Regions from separate parts of the Homo sapiens genome. Here region 1 is linked to region 2. Evidence: fine-mapped expression QTL. A gene starts in region 2. The other region holds a variant in brackets. All regions are shown on one strand. Distances are between the middles of the regions.

Region 1 (8,000 bases), 23 kb before region 2:
AAAACTCAGCAATTCATGAGCAACTTGAGAAGTACATTTATTAGAGCTCATAAAATAGTAAGCAATAACAGGGAGTGTGTATACTGAAACAAACAGCCAAAGAGATTGAAAGAAATGTAGTCACAGGCTCTTCTGGCACAAATTCATTGCCTTTATTCTGATGAGCTTCTCTTCATGGGATTTACGGACACTGAATTATATCCAGACTCTGCTAACTTCTTGGTTTTCTCCCTCCTATCGCCTAATGACTCTTTAAGCTACTACATGAGTCTAATCCATGGGCATCCTGAGCTTCACAAATTCACGTCGCACCCAGCGAGAAACCCACCGTCTTCACTGAGTCATTCAAAGCTTCCCACTGCTGGAATGGCATCGACATCTGGCTCCTTCGCCAGTGGTCATAGCGGGCTCGACTCTCTTCATTGGTCAGAATCTCCTTTGCCTTCTGCAGTTTCTGAAAAGTCTCCACTGGAAAACAAATCAAGAAATGAGCACTTCTCTCTCGGAGAGGATATTTTAAACTCCAAAACTATCCAACTGCTCTTACTAAAACCATGACTGCCACTTAATAGCTATGTGACCTTGGGCCAATTTACCTCATTAAGCTTTTGTAAAGGGTATCATAAGGACAAGCAAGATCATGGATGTAAAGTGCTCGGCACAGTTTATCCACTCCCTGTATTGTGCCTCAGTCATGTGCCAGAGGCTACTCCCGGTGCTGATGACACAGATGTGAATAATAGACATTATTAGCAGGGGAAAGAAACATTTGTAAACATTGAAAAAATACTATTCCACCTTATAGGAAGAAAACTACCTTTTTTAGTGCTGGGTGTGAAACAGGGCAGTAATTAGGCAAGAGGGACAGTAAAACTGAAGACTATAAAGACTATAAAACTGAAGACTATAAAGACTATAAAGACATGACTGAGGCACAATACAGGGAGTGGATAAACTGTCCCAAGCACTTTACATCCATGATCTTGTTTGTCCTTATAAAGCAGGAAGGAGCACGGTGACTTAGAGGAAGTAGTAATTGCCAGTGTGGCTGGAGGACACAAGGCTAGGGAAAGAACGATGAGGGATGGGGCTGTAGAGTAGACAGACAATAGCTCAATCAACCAGGGCCTGAGATGTCATGTTAAGGATGCTGGCCTGCTTTTTGTCGTAAGAGAAACGGGAGGCTTTAAGTATAATAAATAACATGGTAGATGCTGGGACAAATGGTAGCTTGTCACTAATCTACTTGACCAGATGGTATATAATAGAAACCTTTTATGGCTCTGTTAGAAACACCTCCAAAGTCTCTTCTGCTCCTCAGTGAAGTAAAAACTTTCTGCAGAGCAGAATACAAGATTTATATACAGGCCGGGTGCAGTGGCTCAGGCCTGTAATCCCGGCACTTCGGGAGGACAAGGTGGGTGGATCACGAGGTCAGGAATTCAAGACCCAGCCTGGCCAAGATGGTGAAACCCCATCTCTGCTAAAAATACAAAAAAAAAAAAAAAAATAGCTGGGGGTGGTGGCAGGCGCCTGTATTCCCAGCTACTCGGGGGCTGAGGCAGAGAATTGCTTGAACCTGGGAGGCAGAGGTTGCAGTGAGCCGAGATTGTGCCACTGGACTCCAGCCTGGGCGACAGAGCGAGACTCCATCTCAAAAAAAAAAAACAAAAAAAAGTAGCCAGGCACGGTGGCCCAGGCCTGTAATCCCAGCTACTCAGGAGCCTGAGGCAGGAGAATCGTTGGAACCCGTGAGGCAGAGCTTACAGTGAGCCGAGTTTGCACCACTGCACTCCAGCCTGTCCGACAGAGCAAGACTCCATCTCAAAACAAACAAACAAAAATTCATATGTTGAATTCTTAACTCCCAAAATGATAGTATTAGGAGATGGGGCTTTTGAGATATGATTAGATCATGAGGGTGGAACCCTCACGAATGGAATCAGTGCCCTAATAAAAGAAACCCAGACAACTCGCTCACTCTGTTTCCCCCATGTGAAAACACAGCAAGAAGACAATTAGCTAGGCATGGCGGTGGGCGCCTGTAATCCCAGCTATTTGGGAGGCTGAGGCAGAAGAATCTCATGAATCTGGGAGGTAGAGGTTGCAGTGAGCCAAGATCACACCACTGCACTCCAGCCTAGATGACAGAGCGAGACTCCGTCTCCAAAAAATAAAAAATCAATATACAAATATCAGTGGTGTCTCTACACAGTAGCAATGAACAATCTGAAAATGAAATTAAGAAAATTCCATTTATAAGAGCATCAAGAGCCGGACCCAGTGGCTCATGCCTGTAATCCCAGCACTTTGGGAGTCCGAAGTGGGCGGATCACGAGGTCAGGAGTTCGAGACCAGTCTGGCCAACATGGTGAAACCCCGTCTCTACTAAAAATACAAAAAAAAAAAAAAATTAGTTGGGTGTGGTGGCAGGCGCCTGTAATCCCAGCTACTCAGTAGGCTGAGGCAGGAGAATCACTTGAACCTGGGAGGCGGAGGTTGCAGTGAGCTGAGACCATGTCATTACACTCCTGCCTGGGTGACAGAGCAAGACTCTGTCTCAAAAGAAAAAAAAAAAAGCTTCAAGAAGAATATAATATTTTTAAAAAATTGAACAAAAGAAGGAACTACACAATATTGTCAAAAGAAGCTAAAGAAGATCTAAATAAATGAAAAGACATCCCACGTTCATAAAGATTTACTATTGCTAAAATGATAATACCCCCCAAACTGATCTGCAGATTCAACATAATCTCTATCAAAATCCCAGTTGCCTTTTTTGCAGAAATTGACAATCTAGTCCTAAAATCTGTTTGCAAATACAAGGGACCCAGAATTGCCAAAAAAAAAAAAAACTCTTGAAAAAAATAAGAGCAAAGTTGGAGAATTCACACTTCTGAATTTCAAAACTTATACTACAAAGCTACAGTAGTGAAAACAGTGTGGTACTAACATAAGGATAGACATACTTATAAATGGAATAGAATTGAGAATCCAGAAACAAACCCTTACATTTACAGTCAATTGATTTCAACAAGAGTGCCAAGACAATTTAATGAAGAAAAAAAATAGTCTTTTCAACAAATGGTGCTAGGATAACTAAATATCAATATATAAAAAGCATGAATTTAGATTTCTACCTTAAGCTATAAACAAATATTGACTCAAATGGATCACAGATCCAAATGTAAGGGTTAAAACCATAAAAAACTGGGAAAAAAAAAACATAGGAATAAATCTTTGTGACCTCAGCTTAGGCAAGAGCTCCTTAGATATGACACCAAAAGCACAAGCAACAAAAGAAGAAATAGATAAATTGGACTACATCAAAATTAAAACTTTTGTGCCTCAAAGAATACCATGAAGAAAGTGAAATGACAAACCATGGAATGGGAAAAAATATCTGCAAATAATATATCTGATAAGGTACTTATATCTAGAATTTATAGAGAACATTTACAACTCAATAATAAGACAAATAACCCAAATGCAAAATGGACAAAGGGCTTGAATGAACATTTCTCCAAAGAAGATATACAAATAGCCAACAAGCACCTGAAAATATCCTGAACAGTATTAGTCCTTCAGGAAATACAAATCAAAACCATAGTGAGATACCACTTTATACCTACTAGGATGGCTAAAATTAAAGGATAATAATTGTCTAGAATGTGAAAAAATTGGAACTGTCACACATGACAGGTGGGAATGTAAAGTGGTATATAGTCACTTTGAAAAGTAGTTTGGCTGTTCTTCAAAAATATTAAGCAGAGTTGCCATATGACCCAACTATTATAATCCTAGGTATATATCCATGAGAAATGAAAACATATGTCCACACAAAAACCTGTATATGATAGCAGCATTACTCATAATAGCCAAAAGTGAAAATAACACAAATGTCCATCAACTGTGAATTGATAAACAAAATGTGGTATATCCACCTAAAAGAATTATCATCCAGCCATAAAAAGGAATGAAATGTTGATATGTGCTACAACATGAATGAGTCTTGAAAATATGCTAAATGAGGCTGGGCACGGTGGCTTACACCTGTAATCCCAGCACTTTGGGAGGCCAAGGTGGGCGGATCACCTGAGGTCAGGAGTTCAAGACCAGCCTGACCAACATAGAGAAACTCCATCTCTATTAAAAATTCAAAATTAGCTGGGCGTGGTGGTGCATGCCTGTAATCCCAGCTACTTGGGAGGCTGAGGCAGGAGAATCGCTTGAACCCAGGAGGTGGAGGTTTCGGTGAGCCGTGATCACACCATTGCGCTCCAGCCTGGGCAACAAGAACAATACTTCGTCTCAAAAAAAAAAAAAAAAAAAGAAAAGAAAAAAAAAGATGGGGCTATTGAAAGCTACAGGAAAACAAATGAACAAATAAAAGTATCTTGCCATAGCAGCTTGGTCCAGCGAGAGCAAATCTTCCTGTTGCTGACGACAATGTAAATGTCCCATTGTATAAATGATACGTCACTTTTTCCAACAGGAATAAAAAGCTTATTAAATTACCACCAAGGATGCACATGCCAGTTGCTACTCATGTGGGGCTTGTAAAGATTTATGTATTTATCTGTGAGTCACCTTCTCTTTTCACATCATTGTTGGCTTCGCTTTCTAGAA[T/C]TCCCAGAATGAAAGAAGCTGCTTAGAATTATTCTGATGTAAGTCCCTCAACAACAGTTGATAAGCAGAAAGAAAAAAGAAACCTTATCTTTCCTATAATGTGACCTTTCTCTTGTTCCATCCACTTCACCACATTTAACAAAAGTGAGTTTGGGTTTATATTTTTCCATTAATGTAGCAACTAATCAAATGAGCCACACAAGGTAAACACTTGCCAGTTCTGGGAAGAGAGATCTCATTTTGTAAGCTTATAGGAGCAAATGATGCTGGAAGTCTTGCGAGACATTCTGATTTAACTCCTGGGTCTACCTTCAAAATATAGAGGTTATTTTAAATTCATATTTTGCAATAGAATTTGTATTACAACAGTCACATTTTAAATGTATGCCATTTACAATTACTTAAGAAATAATAATATGATGTCAAAATATGCTTTGAAAAAATCTGGAAGAAAATATACCAACTGTTAATAGTGGTTCTCTATCAGGGAAAGATAAAAGCAAACTTTTTCTTCCAACATTATTTATTAATTATGTTATTTTTATTATATGGGGAAAAACAGTAAAGACTATAAAGTAAAAAAAAAATTGAGACATTAAAAGATGTTAGTTAACAAAGGACAAATTGCTCCCCTTCTTCTAATATCCAAATGTCCTTGAAGTTTGCACATCAGTAACAAAAATACCATTCCACAGGTTCTTAGTCTGAAGTTTACTTTCTTTTTTTTTTTTTTTTTTTTGAGGCAGAGTCTCTCTCTATAGCCCAGGCTGGAGCACTGTGACACAACCTCAGCTCACTGCAACCACCGCCTCCTGGGTTCAAGTGATTTTCCTGCCTCAGCCTCCACAGTAGCTGGGATTACAGGCACCCGCCACCACACTCAGCTAATTTTTTGTACTTTTAGTAGAGACGAGGTTTCACCATGTTGGCTAGGCTTGTCTCAAACTCCTGACCTCATGTGATCTGCCCACCTTGGCCTCCCAAAGTGCTGGGATTATAGGTGTGAGCCATCACACCGGCCTTAAGTCTACTTTCTTCATGGCCATGGAGAAGTTAATATAGTGCTAATCTGAAACAGTTACTGTCACCCACACAGAGCGCTGGCATGAGCACCAGCCAGGAGCTCTGGGGCTCAGTGACACTATTTTTATAGCAAAGTCAGTCCTGTCTGCAGCACCCACATCTGGAGAGGGGAAGGGATTTCTGGTGGCCTTAGATTTACTTTTTTTTTTTTCAGGGAATAAAAGAATGATCTAATCATTACTTATAAAAAGAGAAAACTATCCCATCACGTTAAATGTTTACCTTGGGCTGCTACATAAAACAAGGAAAGACAATCCACTGAATTAAAATTGCCAGCATCCATTAAGCACTTTCCACATGCAGGACTCCTCATTTAATCTTCACAGCAGATGCATGAAGTAATATACTACTAGTCTACCTGTTTTACCTACGAGAATGCTGAGGCTTGGAGAGATTGCCCAAGATCAACTAGACTGTAAGTGGAATGGGAGCAATCCAGACAAACAAGCCTGTGTTTATATCCACTACTCCATCATGCTACCACATCAGTAATTTCAATGGCAACAGTTGAGACTATATTTAGTGGACGAAAAAGGTATAGATATAAGTTTAATTTATCCTACCCAAAGTTCCTCTACTGTCTAGCTTTTCACCTTAATTAGATACATTTCAAAATCTTTCCATTACATTCTGAATTTCTGTCAAGCTAAACTTCAGTATCCAAGTGAATTTTTAAAGATATTTTGAGGCTGGGTGCAGTAGCTCACTCCTGTAATCCCAGCACTTTGGGAGGCCGAGGCAGGTGGATCACTTGAGGTCAGGAGTTTGAGACCATCCTGGCCAACATGGTGAAACCCCGTTTCCACTAAAAATAAAAAAAATCAGCTGGGCGTGGTGGCACACACTTATAGCTCCGGCTACTCAAGAGGCTGAGGCAAGAGAGTCACTTAAACCCAGGAGACAGAAGTTGCAGTGAGCTGAGATTGTGCCACTGCACTCCAGTTCGGGCGATAGAGCAAGACTCCATCCCCCCAAAAAAATAAAAAATAAAAAAAGAGATTTTGAAATAGTCTGGCCAGGCACAGCAGCTTATCCCTGTAATCCCAGCACTTTGGGAGGCCAAGGAAGGCAGACTACTTGAGTCCAGGAGTTTGAGACCAGCCTGGGCAACATGGCAAAACCCCGTCTGTACTAAAAATACAAAAAAATTACTCAGGTGTGGTGGCGCACATGTGTGGTCCCAGCTACTTGGGAGGCTGAGGTGGGAGAACTGCTTGAGCCTGGGAGGTTGAGGCCAGCAGTGAACCAAGATCGCACCACTGCACTCCAGCCTGGGAGACAGAGCGAGATCCTGTCTCATATATATATTTGAAATATTTTCATCAGTAACCTTAATCATCCAAGTGTGTAAAGATCCACATAAACGTTCAGAAAGTTGTATTAATGAAAACTGAGTAAACGGATGCTTAAATAGATTAAAAAACAACCTCTACCCAAAGGTTGAATCATATATCAAATGCATGCCTGCCTAGAGAAGATATTGATGTCTGTGTACCTTTTCATTTTAAACAATATTTACACAGTCCACTGTTTCTCTGAACAAGACGCCTTGAGGCAGCCCATACATGAAAACCCCCATCACTATGGCAACTAGAAATGGCAATAATTACACAGTGATTCATCATGTATCCTGAATAAAAATTGTTTGTCAGGGACAGAGAAACAACTCACAGTCATGCTTCACTGAAAAGAACCCAGTTAAAGAATAACCTGGGGTGGTGGTGGTTTTTAAGTGTTTATCAAATTTTTATAATTTTTTTTTTTTTGAGACACAATTTCACTCTTGCTACCCAGGCTGGAGTGCAGTGGCGCGATCTCGGCTCACTGCAACATCTGCTCCCGGGTTCATGCGATTCTCCTGTCTCAGCCTCCCAAGTAGCTGGGATTACAGGCATGTGCCACCACGCCCGGCTAATTTTGTATTTTTAGTAAAGACAGAGTTTCACCATGTTGGTCAGGCTGGTCTCAAGTTCCTGACCTCAGGTGAACCACCCACCTTGGCCTCCCAAAGTGCTGGGATTACAGGCATTAGCCACCGAGCCCGATCTAAATTTTTATAATTTTATGCTAGGACACCTATCTTAATATTAACTCCAGTTCAGACAGGTAGTTAATATGAATCCTAAAGAAATGTTTGGGCCAGGGGTCGGGAGCGGTGGCTCACGCCTGTAATCCCAGGACTCTGGGAGACCGAGGCGGGCGGATCACGAGGTCAGGAGATTGAGACCACCCTAGCTAACAAGGTGAAACCCCGTCTCTAGTAAAAATACAAAAAATTAGCCGGGCGC
Region 2 (12,671 bases):
AAAAAAAAAAAAAGAAAAGAAAGAAAAGAAGATTCATTTTAATACTGATTTAATTGATATATATTATTTTAATTCACTCAGTTTAAAACTAGATTTTTCCCACAAAATTCCAGATATTAGCAATATCCCTGAAATAAATGAGAGATCCTCCTACATTACTCTAATCAAATGATAATTAATTAAGTCATGAGGCATAGAAACAATTTGAGACACAAAATAAATAATGGTAATATTTGGGTTATAACACTTAAAATACAATAACTATTAATTGATAGTGATAAAACTAAGCCAAATAAACAAATAAATGTGGGAGAAGGGATAGTTTTTCCTTACTGAAGAATTTCCTTACTGTAGAATACTAATAAATGTAAAATTAATGAGAAAAAGAAAGTCACCATTAGGCAAACACCATAGTAGTAACTGTTACAGGCAAGATCCACTGAAGGATGCTAAACTTAGTGAGTAAAAGTTTGAGAAGAAACAGGACAGTCTCAAAGTACCTTCCCCAAGATATTTGTTAATTACAAAAGGAAAAATAATAACCCTACCTTGGAAAAACCTAGCAGAAGACACCTGACAGACATCACCTTAACGAAGTGCTCAAGGTCAATAAAGCACATCCATTTCATGCACCCCCACATGAGATACTAAGAAAGGCACAACATCACTTCTGAGGAGTTCTTTCCAAAAATGCATAACCTCAATCTAATCATGAGAAAATATCAAAGTCAAATTGAGGGACATTCTACAAAATACTGACAGTAGTCTTCATACTGTCCAGGTCATGAAAGACAAAGAAGGTAGAAGAAAGCATCAGATTGGAGGTCATTAAGGGTTAAGCGTAATAAGGGATCCTGGCTTGGATCCTAGAACAGAAAAAGGGCATTATTAGGAAAACTGATGAAATTAGATAAGACTTATAATTTAGATCAGGGATTGATTGACTCTGGCCTGCTGCTGCCTGTTTTTTAATTAAAGTTTTATTGGAAGACAGCCAAGATCATTCACTTATATTGTCTATGGCTGTTTTCTCCAATGGCAGAGCTGAGTAGTTAGGACAGAGACTGTAAGGCCTGCAAAGCCTAAAATATTTGCTATGCCAGGATCAGCATTAGGTGAGGCAAGCAGGACACCTAGGTCTAAGGAAATATCCTCTCTCTCTCCCTCTCCCTCTCTCTCTCTCTCTCTCTCTGTCTCTCTCAAATTTCTGTACATGCGCAACCCTAAATGTTAGTGCCTCCTTAAATTTTGCATCCTACACACCCTACTTGCCTCATTCTAGTCCTGACTCTGTCTATCTAGTCCTTTACAAAAAAATGTTTGCTGGACCATGGTAGGGTTAACTATAGCAATGTTAATTTTCTGATTTTTTGGTGGTTTGTGCTTGCGATCGGTGGCTGCGTCACTCTGGTAAAGGTGTGCAGTTTTGGGCCATGATCTCTGGGCTGGGATGATCCAGGCTCTCGGTAGAGGCAAGGGAGCCCAGCTATAGCCATGGCCAGTACAATGGTAGCAGTTGGACTGACCATTGCTGCTGCAGGATTTGCAGGCCATTATGTTTTGCAAGCCATGGAGCACATGGAGCCTCAAGTAAAGCAAGTTTTTCAAAGTCTATCAAAATCTGCCTTCAGTGGTGGCTATTACTGAGGTGAGTTTGAACCCAAAATGACAAAACAAGAAGCAGCATTAATGCTAGGGGTAAGCCCTACTGCCAAAAAAGGGAAAATAAGAGATGCTCATTGATAAATTATACTCTTAAATCATAGCAGCCAAAATCAGTGAAGCTAGAAATTTACTAGAAGGTCAAGCTAAAAAATGAAGTAAATGTATGATGAATTTTAAGTTCATTTTAGTTTATGTATATGAGTACCAAGCTTTTATAATAAAATGCCTCAGAGCTATAATTTTTTTTAATTTCTGATTTTGATCATTATACTTTCATTAGGTATGATGTTAACATAAAGGGAAGCTGGGTTAAGGGTATATAGGAACTCTGTTGTACTATTTTTACAACTTTTCTGTAAGTCAAAAATTATTGCAAAATAAAACATCTTAAAAATAATGCAAACTCAAGGATAGGATAAGTGTACTAAGTTCCAAGTGCACAGTAACACTGTGGGGGCCAAAACAACAGCCACAACCACAACCACCACAACTTAGCGCTCTGCACCAGGCACTGTTCAAAGTACTTTATATATCACGTATTATTTAATCCCCACAACTCTGTGAGGTGGGTACTATTTACTTCCATTTACAGGTTAGAAAACTGAGGAATAGAGGCCGGGCGCGGTGGCTCATGCCTGTAATCCCAACACTTTGGGAGGCCAAGGCGGCGGATCACTTGAGGTCAGGAGTTCAAGGCCAGCCTGGACAACATGGTGAAAGCTCATCTGTACAAAAATACAAAAATTAGCTGGGCATAGTGGCATGCACGTATAATCCCTGCTACTCAGGAGGCTGAAGCAGGAGAATCACTTGAACCCAGGAGGCTGCAGTGAGCTGAGATCCTGCCACTGCACTCCAGCCTGGGCAACACAGTGAGACTTCATCTCAAAGAAACAAAAATTTAAAAAAAAAATCCAATATAGGGAGAAAGGCTAACTGTCTTGGAATCAATCTTTGTTAAATTGTTTTGAAATGGGGAATATATTGTTTTCTATATAACATGGAAATCCTCCCATAATTTATATATGTCATTATGTAAACTAGAAAATTAGTCTCATTGCTTGTTTTCATGGTTGTATTTTCAATTTCTGAAAGATAATTTTAAAAACTCTCTGAGAAGGAAAAGCTTCAGGATTACTGCTCTAGAACCATTAGAAAATACATAATTTTACTTTAATCAATTTCTAGCACAAACTTTAAATTGTAAGAACTATATACCAAAGCAAAAGTATTATGTGGGTGTCTCAATTCAATTGTGATAAGTAAAATTAGAATATCAAATTGTTTTGAAATTATAACAGCTAAAATGCTTTCGGGCATGATGAGTTCTGGTTAATTTTAGAGCATCAAATGAAGGAATACCTGAAGTAAAGGCAATCTATCCAATACAAATCAAGTAAAGGAAATGTCATATTAGTCAAAAATGTCATAAAAATATTTTTGAAATGAGAAGCATACCTATAAAAAGAAGAGAAAAGCCAGGTGCGGTGGCTCACGTCTGTAATCCCAGTATTTTAGGAGGCCGAGGTAGGCAGATCACGAGGTCAAGAGATGAAGACCATCCTGGCCAACACGGTGAAACCCCGTCTCTACTAAAAATACAAAAATTAGCTAGGCATGGTGGCATGTGCCTGTAGTCCCAGCTACTCAGGAAGCTGAGGAAGGAGAATCACTTGAACCTGGGAGGCGGAGGTTGCAGTGACCTGAGATTGCACCACTGCACTCCAGCCCGGCAACAGAGTGAGACTCCATCTCAAAAAAACAAAAAAAAGAGAGAAAAAATGACACACACACACACACACACACACACACACATATATATAAAGAAGTGACAATATTATGACAAACATTTCATTAAAAATAAATAATTGTTATCTAGATATGATATGCCATTGACAGACCAGTAAAATACATCCAGTAAAAGGAATGTTGAGACAAGGAAGTATGACTCCACCTGGTAACCATATTTTGAATATTACACATTAACAACGAGATTATTTTCTGTAAGGCTGTCCAAAATGAATCCTCCTTCTATGTAGATTGAAAAGACAACAGCATAACTTCAAAAGACTGACTATGCAGCCATAAAAAAGAATGAGTTCATGTCCTTTGCAGGGACATGGATGAAGCTGGAAACCATCATTCTCAGCAAACTAACACAGGAACAGAAAACCAAACACCACATGTTCTCACTCATAAGTGGGAGATGAACAATGAGAGCACATGGACACAGGCAGGGGAACATCACACACCGGGGCCTGTCGGGGGGTGGGGGAGAAGGGGAGGGACAGCATTAGGACAAATACCTAATGTATGCGGGGCTTAAAACCTAGATGATGGGTTGATAGGTGCAGCAAACCACCCTGGCACATGTGTATCTATGTAACAAACCTGCACATTCTGCACAGGGATCCCAGAACTTAAAGTAAAATTGAAAAAAAAAAAAAAGGACTGACTAAATAGGTCACAAGATTATGGAGATATAATGACCCTTACTGTATAAGCTAGCATGTATTTTTTTAAATCCAAATTGTCAGCCTTATCAAGTTAAATTATATTCCTTTGATTTTAAATTATTCCTTCAAAAATTGTTTGATAATAGTATAATTTCAACTGTGAATAACACATGGTAAAAATGGTAATAAGCTTTCTCAATTGCTATAAGCAAATCACCACCAACATAAACAAGAATAACACATTCTTGAGAAGAAATATGCAACTAAAAGACCATTATAAGCTATTCTGGGGGCGGGGCAGTTTTTTTAATTTCAACGTGTCTAAGATAACTTCCTCAGCATGGCAAAAATAGAGATTTTAATCCTTTGTGTCCAGTAATGCATTCTATTCTTAAAACAAAACTAAGCACATTTTATTAATGAACTACTGCCTTTATGAAACAACAATAAATATAAAAACATTTTGCTTTACAATGTTAATTTTACTACTTAGATTTTAATAAAAATAAATAAAATAAAATACATTAATTATAAAACATAAATATATCCTAATAACATGATTTAATAATATATAATTTAATAATGAATATATTTTATATTAATCTCAACATTATTTGAAATATTGAAAAATTGGAAATAAAATATTTAACAATAAGAGAATAATTCAACTGTGGTAACACAGCAAAATAAAATATTTTGCAACCACTAAAAAGTGTACAAGGAAAGTTTAATAGCATGGAAAATTCCTTGTTATAATACGAATGGGTAAAAAGCAGGAATCAACAAGTACATATAATATCCTCCCAAACAGGTCTTTAAAGAATATACATAGAAAGAATAGTGGAGATTAATATGCCAAAATATTAATACTGTTATCCTTGGGAGAGAGAATTATAAATGATTTTTCCATAATTTAAAAAACCTCTACAACCTTTATAATTGTTTATTGAGAACTTTAAAAATTTTGTTTTCTTACAGATCCAGTGAACAGCTACAGAGTTTTCACATGTTTTGTTTCAGAAGCCACCCTTTCAAGAAGTAATTTCTGTCACACAATTTGAAATATTAACATAAAGGGATGCTTCTTTGTTTCTATTTTGACTGCTCACATAGGAGTACACATTTTAATAAAATATATTAAAATCCCTAATTTTATAAGAAATTTCATTTCACCTCAATTATGAGTCACCATAATAAAGGTATAGCTTATATATACTGTGAAACACTGCCATCAGAAATTACAATAAAATTTCAAATATTTATTTTTAATATACTATATTGTGAAACAGCATATGGCCATGTGCCAGAATACACATATTTAATCAGAAGCTTCCGTAAAATTCCCATAGGACACTATTCAAGTAAAATCCCAACATACATTTAAATTCTTAACTTTCTCTGAGCCAAAAGTGCTTTAAAACAACACAAGGTTAGGTTTGTAGGCAATGTGACTAAAAATTCAAAGTTAAAACCTTAAATAAAAACTTGAAATACTATTGTGAAAAAGAATACTGTTGTGATAAAAATATTATCCACTGTCTTACCGAAGATAGTTCATCACATCCCAGTAATGTGTAGTAATCTTCAGTATCTTCTGACCTGTAATTCAGTATTGCATCCATTTAGATGACTTAATCAGTCCTTCTTCCCTCGGAAACAAGAGGCACAGTGAGCTTCGAATTAACAGGAAGAAACTCTTTAAATCTGAATTAGAGCAGCATGTTCCACATAGCAAAAACTAGCTTTAAGACTGGCCACAGTCAATACACCAGATGTCATCCTAGACCTTTGTAAACTCTGCCTCTCATTGGCTGTTTACAGAGAAGAAAAGAACAGTCCACGTGTCTATTATTGCAGTGCTGCCTGGGATCTGTAGTTTGAGTTTATATAAGAGATGCATGTGAACCATTTGTCTTATGAGTTAATAAAGACTGTCTATTTTCAGAAACTTGCCACATTAGCCACTTCTCCATCTCCTATATATTTTTGTCTCTATCCTTTAAAAAAAAAAAAGAAAAAAAATGTGAAGCAATGTGGTAAAATCTTAGGATGTGTTAATAAGGATAATGGGAGCTTTTCTTAGTGTTTAAAATACTTAATTTTATTTTTTATTTGTTTATTTTCAGACAAGGTCTCACTCTGTTGCCCAGGCTGGAGTGCAGTGGTGCAGTCTCAGCTCACTGCAACCTCTGTCTCCCCAGCTCAAGCGATCCTCCCACCTCAGCCTCCCTAGTAGCTGGGACCACAGGCACATAGCACCATGTCCAGCTAATTTTTGGTTTTTGTTTTGTTATGTTTTAAGAGGAGGGGGTTTTGCCATGTTGCCCAGCCTGGTCTCGAACTCGTGAGCTCAAAGCGATCTGCCTGCTTCGGCCTCCCAACGTGCTGGGATTACAGGCATGATCCACAGCGCCCAGCCAATAACACAGTCTTGATTTTTATGGAGCTTACGCTCTGATGGAGGAAGACAGCTGAAAAACATGCAAAAAAAAAAAAAAAAAAAAAAAACACGATCATTTAAAATAGTGATTTGTAAGCCAGGCATGGTGGCCCACACCTGTAGTCCAGCTACTTGGGAGGCTGAGGCAGAAGAATCACTTGGACCCAGGAGGCAGAGGCTGTAGTGAGCCGAGATGGTGCCACTGCACTCCAGACTGCGCTACAGAGCAAGACTCCATCTCAAAAAATAAAAAAATAAAATAGTGATTTGTGCTTTAGAGAAAATAAAATAGGACAATGAGAAGAACTGTATGATAACTCGGGTCAGATGGCTGTGCTATTTCTCCTGGGTTGGTTCTCCAGACTCAGGAGTGTCTCTAGTCTGAGGTAGGTCCAGGCAATTTATGTTTCAGTTCATTTTGGCCCTAAGAAACACAGTTCAGGTCTGGGATTTAGAGAACAAGGTGAGTGGTCAGGGACACAACACTTTGACTGCCTTAACACTTTTTTTGTTTCATTTTTCAGAGAGACAGGGTCTCGCCATATTGCCCAGATTGGTCTTAAACCCCTGGACTCAAGTGATCCTCCCACTTTGGCCTCCCAAAGTGCTGCGATTACAGATGTGAGCCAACATGCCTGGCCCTTAACACTTTAAATTCCCCCACCTGAGGGGAAAAAATAGTTTTTCTTTTAGCCCACCTATATACATCTTTTTAAAGGTTTATTTCTGAAGAGAAGCAAGAAAAAGCACTGAAACACCATTTTTTACTAATCCTTCATTGTACATGCTGTCTTGCTAAAAGTTCTATATAGAATTTTAAGGCCAGGCACGGTGGCTCATGCCATAATCCCAGCACTGGGAGACCGAGGCGGGCGGATCACGAGGTCGGGGGTTCGAGACCAGCCTGACCAATGTGATGAAATCCTGTCTCTACTAAAAATACAAAAATTAGCCAAGCATGGTGGCACGCACCTGTAGTCCCAGCTACTCAGGATGCTGAGGCAGGAGAATTGCTTGAATCTGGGAGGCGGAGGTTGCAGCGAGCCGAGATCGTGCCACTGGACTCCAGCCTGGGTGACAGAGCCAGGGTCCATCTCAAAAAAAAAAAAAAAAATTAGATCACAATATCTTGATCTAAATCACTGATAAATGGCCTTTTAATGATGTGAAGTTGCCATGGTGGAAAGCAGTATGGTGGTTCCTCAAAAAATTAAACATAGAACTACCATGTGACCCCACAATTCCACTTCTGGGTAAATACACAAAAGAATTGAAAGCAGGAACTTGAAAAGATATTTATATACTCATGTTCATCAAGGCATTAGTCATAATAGCCAAAAAGTGGAGGCAATGCAAGTGTCCATCAACGGATGACTAAACAAATGGAATGTTAGGGCTGGGCATGGTGGCTCACACCTGTAATCCCAGAACTTTGGGAGGCCGAGGCAGGCAGATCACTTGAGGCCAGGAGTTCGAAACCAGCCTGGCCAACATGGCAAAACTTCATCTCTACTGAAAATACAAAAAAGTTAGCTGGGTGTGGTGGCACATGCCTGTAATTTCAGCTACTTGGGAGGCTGAGGCACGAGAATTGCTTGAACCCAGGAGGTGGAGGCTGCAATGAGCTGAGATCACACCACTGCACTCCAGCCTGGGTGACAGAGCACGACCTTGTCTAACACAAACAAACAAAAAAGTGTGGTATTGGCCAGTTGCAGTGGCTTATGCCTGTAATCCCAGCACTTTGAGAGACCAAGGCAGGAGGATTGTTTGAGCCCAGGAGTTCAAAACCAGCCTGCGCAACATAGTGAGACTCTGTCCTTATTTTTATATTAATAATATAATTTTTTTTTTGAGACAGAGTTTCACTCTTGTTGCCCAGGCTGGAGTGCAATGGTGTGATCTTGGCTCACCGCAACCTCCACCTGGGTTCAAGTGATTCTCCTGCCTCAGCCTCCTGAGTAGCTGGGATTACAGGCATGTGCCACCATGCCCGACTAATTTTGAATTTTTAGTAGAGATGGGGTTTCTCCATGTTGGTCAGGCTGGTTTCAAATTCCAGACTTCAGGTGATCCACCCGCCGTGGCCTCCCAAAGTGCTGGGATTAGAGGGGTGAGCCACTGTACCCGGCTTAAAAGTTTTTAAAGTGTGTGGTATCTTCCCCCTGGCTCTCTTACTCCTGTTCTCACCATGTAACATGTCTACTCCCACTTCACCTTCTGCCATAAGTAAAAGCTCCCTGAAGCCTACCCAGAAGCTGAACGGATGCTGGCTCCATGCTTCCACATTCTGCAGAACTGTGAGCCAATTAAACGTCTTTTCAGTATAAATTACCAAGTCTTAGGTATTCCTTCATAGCAATGCAAGAATGGCCTGACACAAAAAATTGGTACCAAAGAGTGGGGCCTTGCTATAAAGATACCTGACAAAGTGGGAGCAGCTTTGAAACTGGGTAATGGGCAGAGGCTGGAAGACTTTGGAGGGCTCACAAGAAGACAGGAAGATGAGGGAAAGTTTGGAACTCCTGCAAGACTGGTTAAATGGTTGTGACCAAAATGCTGACGGTGATATGGACAGTGAAGTCCAGGCTAATGAGGTCTCAGATGGAAATGAGGAACTTATTGAGAACTGGAATAAAGGTCACTCTTGTTATGCCTTACCAAGGAACAAAGCTATATGGTATTCATGCCCTAGGAATCTGTGGAAGTTTGAACTTAAGAGTGATGACTTAGGGTATCTGGCAGAAGAAATTTCTAGGCAGCAAAGTGTTCAAGAAGTGACCTGGCTGCTTCTAACAGCCTATCCTCAGATGCAGAAGCAAAGAAATGACTTAAAGTTGGAACTTATATTTAAAGGGAAAGCAGAATGTAAAAGTTTGGAAAATTTGCAACCTAGCCATGTGGTAGAAAACAAAAACCCATTTTCAGGGCAAGAATCTAAGCAGACTGCAGAGCAACCACTTGCTAAAGAGATTTGCATAAATGAAAGGGAGCCAGGTCAGAGGCTGATAGACAAGACAATGAGAAAAAAACCTCAAAGGCATTTCAGAGATCTAAGAGGCAGCCCCTCTCATCACAGGCCTAGAGGCCCAGGAGAAAAGAATGATTTAGGGGGCCAGGCTCAGGGTGCTGCTGCCCTGTACCACTATGGGAGGCTGCTTCCTGCATCCAGCCACTTCAGCCCCAGCCTCAGCTCAAAGGGGCCCAGGTACAGCTCAGGCCACAGCTCAGAAGGGTGCAGGCTGTAAGCCTTGGGTGGCTTCCATGTGGTGTTAAGCCTGCAGGTGTTCAGAATGCAAGAGTGAAGGAGGTTTGGCAGCTTCCTCCTAGATTTCAGAGAATATATAAGAAAGCCTGGGTACCCAAGAAGAAGCCTACCACAGGGACAGAGCCCTCACCAAGAGCCTCTACTAGGGCAGTGCAGAGGGGAAATGGGAGGTTGGAACTTTAACATAGTTTGGAAAGTCTCCCTGCCTGAATCTCATGTTGAATTGTAATCCTCAGTATTGGAGGTAAGGCCTGGTGGGAAGTGATCAGATCATGGGACTGGATTTCTCATGAATGGTTGAGCACCATCCTCTTGATGCTGTCCTCACAAAAATGAGTGACTTCTCTGAGATCTGGCTGTTCAAAAGTGTGTATCACTTCACTCTCTGTCTCTCTTGCTCCTGCTCCCACCATAGGAGATGCCTGCTCCCCCTTCACCTTCTGCTGTGATTGCAAGCTTCCTGAGGTATCCCCAAAAGCAGATGCCTGTGTTATGCTCCCTGTGCAGCCTGCAGAACCATAAGCCAATTAAATCTCTTTTCTTTATAAATTACCCAGTCCCAGGTATGTCTTTTCTTTTCTTTTCTTTTTTTTGAGACAGAGTCTCACTCTGTCGCCCATGCTGGAGTGCAATGGCACAATGTCAGCTCACTGCAACCTCTGCCTCCTGGGTTCGAGCAATTCTCTGCCTCAGCCTCCTGAGTAGCTGGGATTACAGGCGCCTGCCACCACACCTGGCTAATTTTTTGTATTTTTTAGTAGAGATGGGATTTCACCATCTTGGCCAGGCTGGTCTTGAACTCCTGACCTCGTGATCCACCCACCTTGGCCTCCCAAAGTGCTGGACTACAGGCATGAGCCACTGCACCCGGACTTAGGTATTTCTTTTTTCTTTTTTTTTTTTTTTGTGATGGAGTCTTGCTCTGTCACCCAGACTGGAGTGCGACGGCGCAGTCTTGGCTCACTGCAACCTCCACCCCCCGGGTTCAAGCGATTCTTCTGCCTCAGCCTCTCAAGTAGCTGGGACTACAGGCACAAGCAACCATGCCCAGCTAATTTTTGTATTTTTAGTAGGGACAAGGTTTCACCATACTGACCAGTCTGGTTTCAAACTCCTGACCTTGTGATCCGCCTGCCTCAGCCTCCCAAAGTGCTGGGATTACAGACATGAGCCACTGCACCTGGCCAGGTATTTCTTTATAAAAATGTGGGAATGGCCTAATACAAACTCCCACACAGAGTCCCCACTGGGGCACTGCCTAGTGAAGCTGTGGGAATAGGGCCCCCACCTTCCCGGCCCAGAGTGGTAGATCCACTGGCAGCTCACACCCTGCACCTGGAAAAGTCACAGAGTCACAGGCACTCAACTCCAACCCAGGAGAGCAGCCTGCAAAGCCACAAGGGCAGGGCTGCCCAAGGGATTGGGAGCCCACCCCTCACAGCAGTGTGCCAAGGACGTGAGACATGGAGTCAAGAATTATTTTGGATCTTTAAGATTTAATGAATGTCCTGCTGGGTTTCAGGCTTGCTTGGGACTTGTTGCTCCTTTCTTTTTTTTCCTTTTTTTTTTTTGAGGTGGAGTCTTGCTCTGTTGCCCAGACTGAAGTACAGTGGCACAATCTCGGCTCGCTGCAACCTGCACCTCCCAGGTTCAAGCTATTCCCCTGCCTCATCCTCCCTGAGTAGCTGGGATTACAGGCATGTGCCATCACACCCGGCTAATTTTTGTATTTTTAGTAGAGACGGGGTTTCACCATGTTGGCCAGGCTGGTTTCCAACTCCTGACGTCAGGTGATCCACCCTCCTCAGCCTCCCAAGGTGCTGGGATTACAAGCATGAGCCACAGCACCCGGCATGTTGCTCCTTTCTTTTAGCTGATTTCTTCCTTTTGGAAAGGGAATGTTTGCCCAATGCCTGTATCTCCATGTATCTTGGAAGTAAATAACTTGTCTTTTATTTTACAAGTTCATAGGTGGAAGGAACATGGCTTGAGTCTCAGATAAGACTTTGGACTTGGGACTTTTGAGTTAATGCTAGAATGAATTAAGACTTTGGGGAACTATGGGCAGGGGATAATTGTATTCAGCAATGTGAGAAGAATATGAGATTTGAGGGGTCAAGGTAGAATGATGCAGTTTAGATGTTGTCCCCTCTAAATCTCATGTTGAATCATAATCCCCAATGCTGGAGCTAGGGCCTGGTAGGAGGTGATGGGATCATGGAGCCAGATTTCTCATGAATGGTTTAGTACCATCCTCCTGGTGCTGTCCTCAGAATAGTGAGTGAATTCTCATAAGATCTGGCTGTTTAAAAGTGTGTGGTATGGCATCTTCCCCCTCACTCTCTTGTTCCTGTTCTTGCCATGTGACATTCCTGCTCCTGCTTTGCCTTCTGCCATGAGTAAAAGCTCTCTGAGGCCTCCCCAGTAGCCAAGCAGATGCTGGCTGCATGCTTGTACAGCCTTCAGGACCACGAGCCAATTAAAACTCTTTTCTTGGCCGAGTGTCACAGCTCATGCCTGTAGTTATAGCACTTTGGGAGGCTGAGGCAGGTGGATCACTTGAGCTCACGAGTTCGAGACCAGCCTGGGCAACACGGCAAAACCCCATCTCTACAAAAAATACAAAAATTAGCTGGGCATGGTGGCGTATGCCTGTAGTCCCAGCTATTCCAGAGGCCGAGGTGGGAGGATCACTTGAGCCCAGGAGCTCAAGGCTGCAGTGAGCCACAATCATGCCACTGCACCCCAGCCTGGGTGAGAGAGTGAGACCCTGTCTCAATGAAAAGTAAAAATATATATATATTCTTTATAAATTACCCAGGTTCAGGTATTCCCTCATAGC

Alleles and levels. Positions count from the first base shown, and alleles are read on the strand shown. Sizes are in standard deviations (SD) of each study's normalised expression.
With allele T in place of C in region 1, the expression in adrenal gland of the gene that starts at base 5,920 in region 2 is higher (large effect, 0.88 SD a copy in GTEx).

The links. PIP is the estimated chance that this variant, and not a neighbour inherited with it, causes the effect.
Region 1: its variant is fine-mapped to the expression of DNAJC12 in adrenal gland (GTEx, PIP 0.99).

The regions. Positions count from the first base shown.
Region 1 is chr10:67,811,196-67,819,195 of GRCh38, forward strand. DNAJC12 (DnaJ heat shock protein family (Hsp40) member C12) reads right to left here. Exons shown (of 5, transcript NM_021800.3): 3 at 329-468. Among named protein-coding and RNA genes, the nearest start is that of DNAJC12, 23 kb to the right of the region's middle. RefSeq lists an enhancer at 7,690-8,000. The variant T/C (reference allele first, on the strand shown) is at 4,630.
Region 2 is chr10:67,832,269-67,844,939 of GRCh38, forward strand. It overlaps DNAJC12 (DnaJ heat shock protein family (Hsp40) member C12), which reads right to left and starts at 5,920. Exons shown (of 5, transcript NM_021800.3): 1 at 5,666-5,920. The coding sequence starts at 5,743. It also overlaps the pseudogene DNAJC19P1.